Linked DNA regions of Homo sapiens. The protein of the gene in region 1 interacts with the protein of each later gene in a pairwise test. Each region holds a gene or a part of one and is shown on either strand. Other genes may lie near its edges.

What was found.
Region 2: the proteins of PRDM16 (region 1) and CCDC13 interact in a two-hybrid assay, tested with the Homo sapiens proteins (one large-scale study listed by BioGRID).

What each region holds. Positions count from the first base shown.
Region 1 is NC_000001.11:3,411,703-3,415,202, reverse strand, and holds part of PRDM16 (histone-lysine N-methyltransferase PRDM16), read right to left. Parts: coding exon 2,403-3,500; intron 644-2,402; coding exon 556-643; intron 1-555. UniProt on the Homo sapiens protein: Binds DNA and functions as a transcriptional regulator. Displays histone methyltransferase activity and monomethylates 'Lys-9' of histone H3 (H3K9me1) in vitro.
Region 2 is NC_000003.12:42,710,754-42,714,253, reverse strand, and holds part of CCDC13 (coiled-coil domain-containing protein 13), read left to right. Parts: intron 1-937; coding exon 938-1,092; intron 1,093-3,500. UniProt on the Homo sapiens protein: Required for primary cilia formation and promotes the localization of the ciliopathy protein BBS4 to both centriolar satellites and cilia.

The sequences.
Region 1 (3,500 bases):
GGAGCACCTCCAGGCCTGGCAGGGTCTGCACCCACCTGTCTGGACTGGGGGGCTCTCTGGGTCTCTTTCCAGACCCCCTGCCCACCACCTCCCTGGGGCCTGGCTCCATGCCCCTCTCTGCATGCTCAGGCCCTTCCTCTCTTCCGGTCCATTTGAACATACTCAGGTCCTGTGCACCCCAGAGAGAGCGCCCACGCTGTGTCCTGGGCTGCCACCTGAGGCTGCTCCCCTCACTCACAATCCCTGCCCTCGCTCCTTCAGGCTCTGCCCACGACTCCAGTGAAGCTCCTTCTCCCTCCTGGAGCCCAGAGCCAGGGGTCAGAGAGGTCCCTGGGGTGGCCCTGTGAGGGTCACTCTCAGTCCTCAACCTCTCCAGCCTACAGTGACCTGAGGGGCCTCAGGGAGAGAATCCTCCTCTGCCTTTGAGGGCGTCTGTGCGTGGTATGGCCTGGACGGGGACTTAGGCTCCAGCCTGGCCACTGAGCCTCGACAGCCGGGAGATGGGGCCACTGGCGTGTGGGTTACAGGGCGCCCTGACCTGCACTGAGGACGTACCTGGGGGTGGAAGAGCAGCGGGGACGGCCGCAGGTACTTCTCCTTCAGGGCTCCCACGGGGTCTGTGACCTTCCGCTTTTCTACCCTGCTGGACAACAGCACAGAGGGTTACGTACCCCACCGAGCCGCCCGCCCCGCCGAGCCACCCGCTCCACAGAGCCGCCCACCCCGCCTGACCATATACCTGGCCAGTCACAAGGCCATGGTGTGGACCTCGCCGTGGCTGCCCCAACGCTCACCAGACTCCTCTGTGGGCCTTGGGGATGTCGGGAGCCCAGCCCACCTGCACCCCTAGACGGACCCTCCCTGTCACCACCTGCCCCTGAACACTCTCCCTCAGTGGTTCCCTCACACCTCCCATGCCTCCAAGGTCCCCTCGAGGGCCTTCAAAGACCCCTGGCTGCCAGCACCCCTGCAGGTCATGGGTGCTAAGTGCAGGCGGCTGGAGTTTTCTCTGAAGGCCCCGTGCACCCCGGCCTAACTGGCCGGTCAGCCCTGCATGAGTGGGGACCACTCTGAAGGGGGTCCCTGGACCTGCTCACAGCAGAGCGTGGCTCACACCAGAGGCTCAAGGCCTCCTCCGCTCCTTCTCTGACCCGGCCCCTGGCACGGGGTGTGCTGCCCGTGTGTGCTGATGAACGTGAGTGGCCAGCAGGTTTCTGTCCTGGGGAGGTCACCAGGGGCTTCCTGCAGCACCCAGACAGGGCCCTGTCTAAACACCCTCCAGGGCTGCTGGAGATTACAGTTCCAGAACCTTCCCCAGATGCCGGTGACAAGCCTGCTCACTGAATCACAATGCAAACCTCCTGTGGTAAACAGAGGCCGTGGGCAGGGCTATCCACTGACCCTCCTTTGGCCTGGTGGCTCTTGAAGGCAGCCTGCTCTTCTCTGTCTGCCTGGGTTCCCATAGTGAGGGTTAGATTTGGGAGCCTCTTTCCCATCACTGAGAGCGCTTTGGTAAACCTGCCACCCCGTTGCAAGACACAGCACCCCCAGCATGTCTATGACTGGCCGCTTTTGCTTTATTAGGACAGGACTTGCTCAGGGTCTCCTGCCTGTCTCCTTGCATGGCGAAGCGGGGAGCACAGGGACAGGTGCTGGTGGGGGTAGGACCCCCTCCCCAAGCCTAGCCCTGCTCTTCCAACCCACCTGCATTCTAGGGAGGGGCAAACCTGTCCAGAAATTAGGGAGTGGCATTAAACTCGCCTTTCCCCAAGAGAGGCATCAGAGACACAGGACACTGGTGCCTAGAAAACCCTCCAATGCTTGCTTCATCCCTCGCCTCCTCCTCCCCTCCAAGGACCACTGGCTCCTTCTCTGATTCCCCCGGGGCCCCCAGAAAGACACCCCCTCCCCATTCCCCCTGCCGCTGTGGCTCCAGGGGCAGGAGCGCACCAGGAGGGGCAGGAAGCACTCAGCCCAGGCCCCTCTGACTTCTGCAGGTAGAGGCTGGGGAGAGCTAGACCAGAGACGACAGCTGGAGAGAGGGGTGGGGAAGGGTGTGGGTTGGGGTGGGGGGTGGGGTTACTGGGGATAGGAGGCGCTCGAGGCCAGCAGTGTGATGTCTGAGTGGTCATCGGTGCAAGCAAACTGCACGTGTCCAGGAGCACCCGTCCTGGCCTCCCAAACACGGCCCGGGCCAGGCACCTAGCTTAGGAGCAGCCAAGCCAGGCATCCCTCCTGAGGGGTGCAGACCCCCCCAAGAACAGGGGCATCTTCCTGAAGTCAGCAAAGGCCGGGGGACGACCTTGGAGGAGCTTGAAAGAGACACCACCATGCACTGAGCCCGCCCAGCACCGCCGCGGCCCCGCCCCAGGGAGAGCCAGTGAGGCTGGGGTGCTGAATACCTGTAGATGGGGTCCATGAAGAAGGGCGAGGGCTTGGCGTAGTGGAGCGGGGGCTGCTGGGGCATCCGCGCCGGGCACACCTGGGGCAGCCCCTCGCCGGCGCCCAGCTTGCGTTCCCCATAGACGTGGTTCTTGCGGGGCTCCCGCCCGCCGCCGTTTTGGCTGGCACGGGCCCGGCTGCCGATGCTCAGGTCCAGCGGCTGCTCCTCGCCGGATGCGGGGGCCGAGGGGCCCTTGGGCATGGGCAGGATGGGCTTCACGTCTTTGGGCTTGGTGGTGAGATCAAAGGGGCACTCGGCACTGGGGCCGCCCACCTTGAGGGCGTCCCGGGGTGACTTTGGCTCGGCCTTGACCAGCAAGTTGTGGGCGAGGGCTCGGTCCGTGAAGGGGTAAAGGGAGTGGGGGAAGTTGGGCAGGAACTGGAAGGGGAACGCCGAGTGGTAGGGGAGCGAGCCCAGCTTCTTCTCCTGCATCCCCATGAAGCCGGGGCCAAAGTACTTCTCGGCAATGGATGCGATGGCCTTGATGGAGTCCCCGGCGGCGCCCGTTGCAGTCAGCAGCTGCTCGTCGGGTGGCGGGAAGAATGAGTGCTGGGAATAGAAGACAGGCACCTCGGCCACGCTGTTCGGGGCCCCCGGGGGCGCCAAGCCGCCCCCAAACTTGGGCTGGCCCTCGGCGGACTTGCCCTTGCCCTTGTCCTTGTCAGGGTCGCTGTCCACGTCGCTGTCCAGGTCCGAGCCCGTCCCCGTGGTCGTGTCCAGGTCGGTCCCCGTGGTGGTGTTGACGTCCTCAAAGTCACTGCCGTCCGACATGTCGCTGCTCCTGGTCTTCAGCTTCTCCACACAGGAGTCCTCCAGGCGGCTCTCGAACTTCTCCTCGGGCCCCGCAGCTGCCGTCGTGCCCTGGCTGCTGTTGCTGACGGCGGAGACCAGGGGCAGGGCTGGGTTCCCCAGGGGACTGGGGAGCTTGGCGTCCTGGGTGTGGTTCAGGGGGCTCTTGAGCAGCGATGTGGGAGGTAGCAGAGGCGGCCGGGGGTACAAGGATGGAGGGAAGATGCCCGGGAAGCCGGGGGTGAGTGCGGGGAACGTGGGAGGCGCC
Region 2 (3,500 bases), on another chromosome or scaffold:
CTAAAATGGAAAGATTATCCTGGATTATCTGGTGGGCTCAATGTAATCTTTTGAGCCCTTAAAAGCAGAGAAATATCTCCGTCTGGGATTATTCAGAGAGTTGCTGTGGAGGAAGTCAGAGAGGGTAGTGAGATTCAAAGTGTGTTAAGGGTATCTAGCTGGCTTTAAAGATGGAGGGGGCAAGGTGGCTCCTAGAAGGTGAAATTGACCAGCAGCCTGCAGGGAACAGGGACCTCAGTCCTTCAACTACCTGGAACTGGATTCTGTCAACACTCTGAATGGGCCTGAAAGTGGATTTTCCCCCGGAACCTCCAGATAAGAGCCCAGGTCAGCCAACCCCTTGATTTCGGCTTGTGAAACCAGAAGCAGAGAAACCCACTGAGCTTGCCAGGCCTCTGACTTACAGAACTGTGAGATAATAGATTTGTGTTGTTTTAAGCTGCTAAATTTATGGTAATTTGTTATAGCTGTGATAGAAAACTGATACCTAATATCAATTCATCCAAAAACGTATACAGGTGATTCTGTTTCGTAGGAGGAGAGTACTAAAATAAAACTAAATTCTTATTTTGCATGACAGGAAGTCAAAAGATTATATTTAAACCTTATATAAACCTAAAAATAGCAACATAAGCATCTGTAGAAATATGGCAGTAAATATTAAAAGAAACAGCTAGAAGTGTTATAAGTGATTGCTTTTAGAGAGCAGGAATTGGGAATGATGGGGCTGGGAGTGGGCTGATAATTTTTAAATTTTAACCTTGGAGAGAACCATATGGTGTTTAAATGCATGTTCCTGTGTTACTGCAATGAAAATGAAGAGGTCCCATCACTACCAATGTAAGATGTGCCCATCTCTCTAAGGGCCTGAGCAAGTGGGGTAGGGCCTGCCCCTGCCTGCCAGGGCATGTAGCATCCCCTCCTCTCTAATCACCAGGGTGGAGGAGAGCAACAGCAAGCTCCTGGAGTCAGAGAGGAAGCTGCAGGAGGAGCGACACCGCACCGTGGTGCTGGAGCAACATCTGGAGAAGATACGCCTGGAGCCAGGGAAGGCATCAGCCTCCCAGAGAGCAGCTCCCAGGACCAAAACAGGTAGGGGCCAGGGCAGTAGTCTCAGTGCAGGGGGTGGAGGCAGTGTTGCTGCTAACAGAGGAGCCAGGCAGCTGCACTGTTCAGCCCATCAGTGAGCATGTGGGAAGCAGAGCTTCCATCAGGGTGGAGCTCTGCCTGCCTCCACTGTGGGGTGTTCTTTTCCCCAGGCCTCTCAGTCAGAAGCAGGAGCCCCAGAGCTCCATTGCCTCGTGTGGCCCTGGCCTGGCCACCTGTAAGCCCTCAGCATGAGGTGGCAGTGCTGAATGCCCCCAGCCACCCTAGCCCTCAACCCTCTATCCTAAGCTGACTTCATTCAAAGTGGTCATGGGGCACAGCTGGTCTGCTGGGGAAGCCCAAGCAACAGTGGCTGAAGCAGGGGAGGAGTCCCTTTGTGCCTCCTGCAATGGTCAAGTTGATATAAGCAGGAAGTAGCCTCACCAGAGGTTTGGGGACCCAAGCTCCCTCTGTTTTGTGGCTCCACTGTTCTCAACATGCAGCTTCCATCTTCTGGTCTACAATGACTGCCTGAGCTTTCCCATCAGCAGCAGGAAGGGGAGAAGGGAAGGAGACAAACTTCTCCTTACCTTTTACGGTTGCATATGTCACTTCTGCTCTCATCCCATCAGCCAGACAGTTGGGCATAGCCAGGTGCAGAGGGAAGCTGGGAAATGCTATCCTTAACTGAAAAGTCTATCGCTCGAACACAGTGGTTCTCAAGGTGCAGTATTCAGATGAGCAGCATCAGCATCCTGTGGGGCTGGGGCGAGCTGGAGGATGCCAGAGCCAGAAGCCATTTCTGGGATGGCTGACTCCCAGGGAGGAAGGGTCTCCAATGTGGAGGGGCTGGGCCTGCCTCTGTCTGACCTCCCATCCCACCCATCCCAGCCCCCTCCAGGCTGGAATGCTGGAGGTGCTGCTGCCCCCACTGCACCCTCTTTCAACACCCCAGTAGCCCCCCAACCCCTCCCCAGCCAAGGATGGTCAGACCCTTGGTCTCAGTCCTCAGCCCAGATGAGGTCAGAACGTTTCAGAAGGGTGTGCCAGAAGTAGGGCATAAAGAGGGTGTTGGGGCCACTTGCTTTCTCTTCTCCCACCAGCAGGGCCAGGAGCTTCTGAGAATCCAGGCCGGGAAGGAAGGGTCTCTGGGGCTTAGCCTTGCTGACCCTCTTGGACTCTCAGGAATATGTTCCCTAGGAGTGTGGCTTCTCCAGGCTGGGGCTTACCTCCTGTAGGGCAGCAGGACTTCCAACCAGGGAGAGCTAAGCCACAGCAGGCAAGTCACTTTGTTCCCTGCTGGACAGTGAGGGCAGCTGCCTGAGGGAAAGTGTCCAGGTGGCCTCTGCTGCCTACTGGCTTTTAACATGGGCAAAATCCTGCCCCTCTGGTGAGCAGAGCACCACTTACCCGCCTCCCCCTGGCCCATCCGTAAAATGAGGAGGCTAGATTTATAATTCAGTCCCCCATGGCAGTCTCACTCCAGTAGGGGAGCTAGACATCTGAGCAGAGATGGAGGAACTGGGAGGGGATGTGGCCTGCCGATCCCTGAGGGAAAGACAAGTGTCGGTGCTTGGAAGCTTAGCTGGATGCTTGGAGGAACAGGGAGGAGGCAGGGAGGCTGGAGTGGTCCAATCACACAGGGCCTTGAGAGCCAAATAGAATTCACTGAGGCTGCCAAAGCTCTAGAGGCATAAACTATTATCCTTTTTTTCAGCTAAGGAAACCAGCTCAGAGAGGCTGATAGTTTGCCTGAGGCCTCTCAGCAGAGGGCGAAAGCCAGGTCTTCTGATACCAAGTAATTTACTGTGGGTCACACCACCTCTGAGGGCCTTTTCAGTCCCGAGGTTTTCTGATGCTGTGATTTTGCCCAAGTTCGCCACCACCAGTTGAGCTTTGTCTTTTTTTTTTTTTTTTTTTTGGAGACAGAGTCTCACTCTGTCCCTCAGGCTGGAATGCAGCGGTGCGATCTCAGCTCACTGCAACCTCCACCTCCCTGGTTCAAGCAATTCCCCTGCCTCAGCCTCCCAAGTAGCTAGGATTACAGGGGTTCGCCACCACACCCTGCTAATTTATGTATTTTTAGTAATGATGGTGTTTTACCATGTTGGCCGGGCTGGTCTTGAACTCCTGACCTCAAATTATCCACCCCCCTAGACCTCCCAAAGTGCTGGGATTATAGGCATGAGCCACCGCACCCGGCTGAGGCTCTTTTTGATTCCCTGTGTCACAGGGCTTAGAAAATTCCATCAGGCTGAACAAGCAGTTTCCCATCCAGGGCAGCTCTAGTTGGGGATGTGGAGGTGCTCAATGCGTGGAATAAGCCAAGGGCAGCTTAGCAGTGTCCCCTGGAGCCAGGAAAGGCCCTGAAGAACACTCAGTCCAGCCCCTGTAGAGGGCAGAGCCACTCTGCT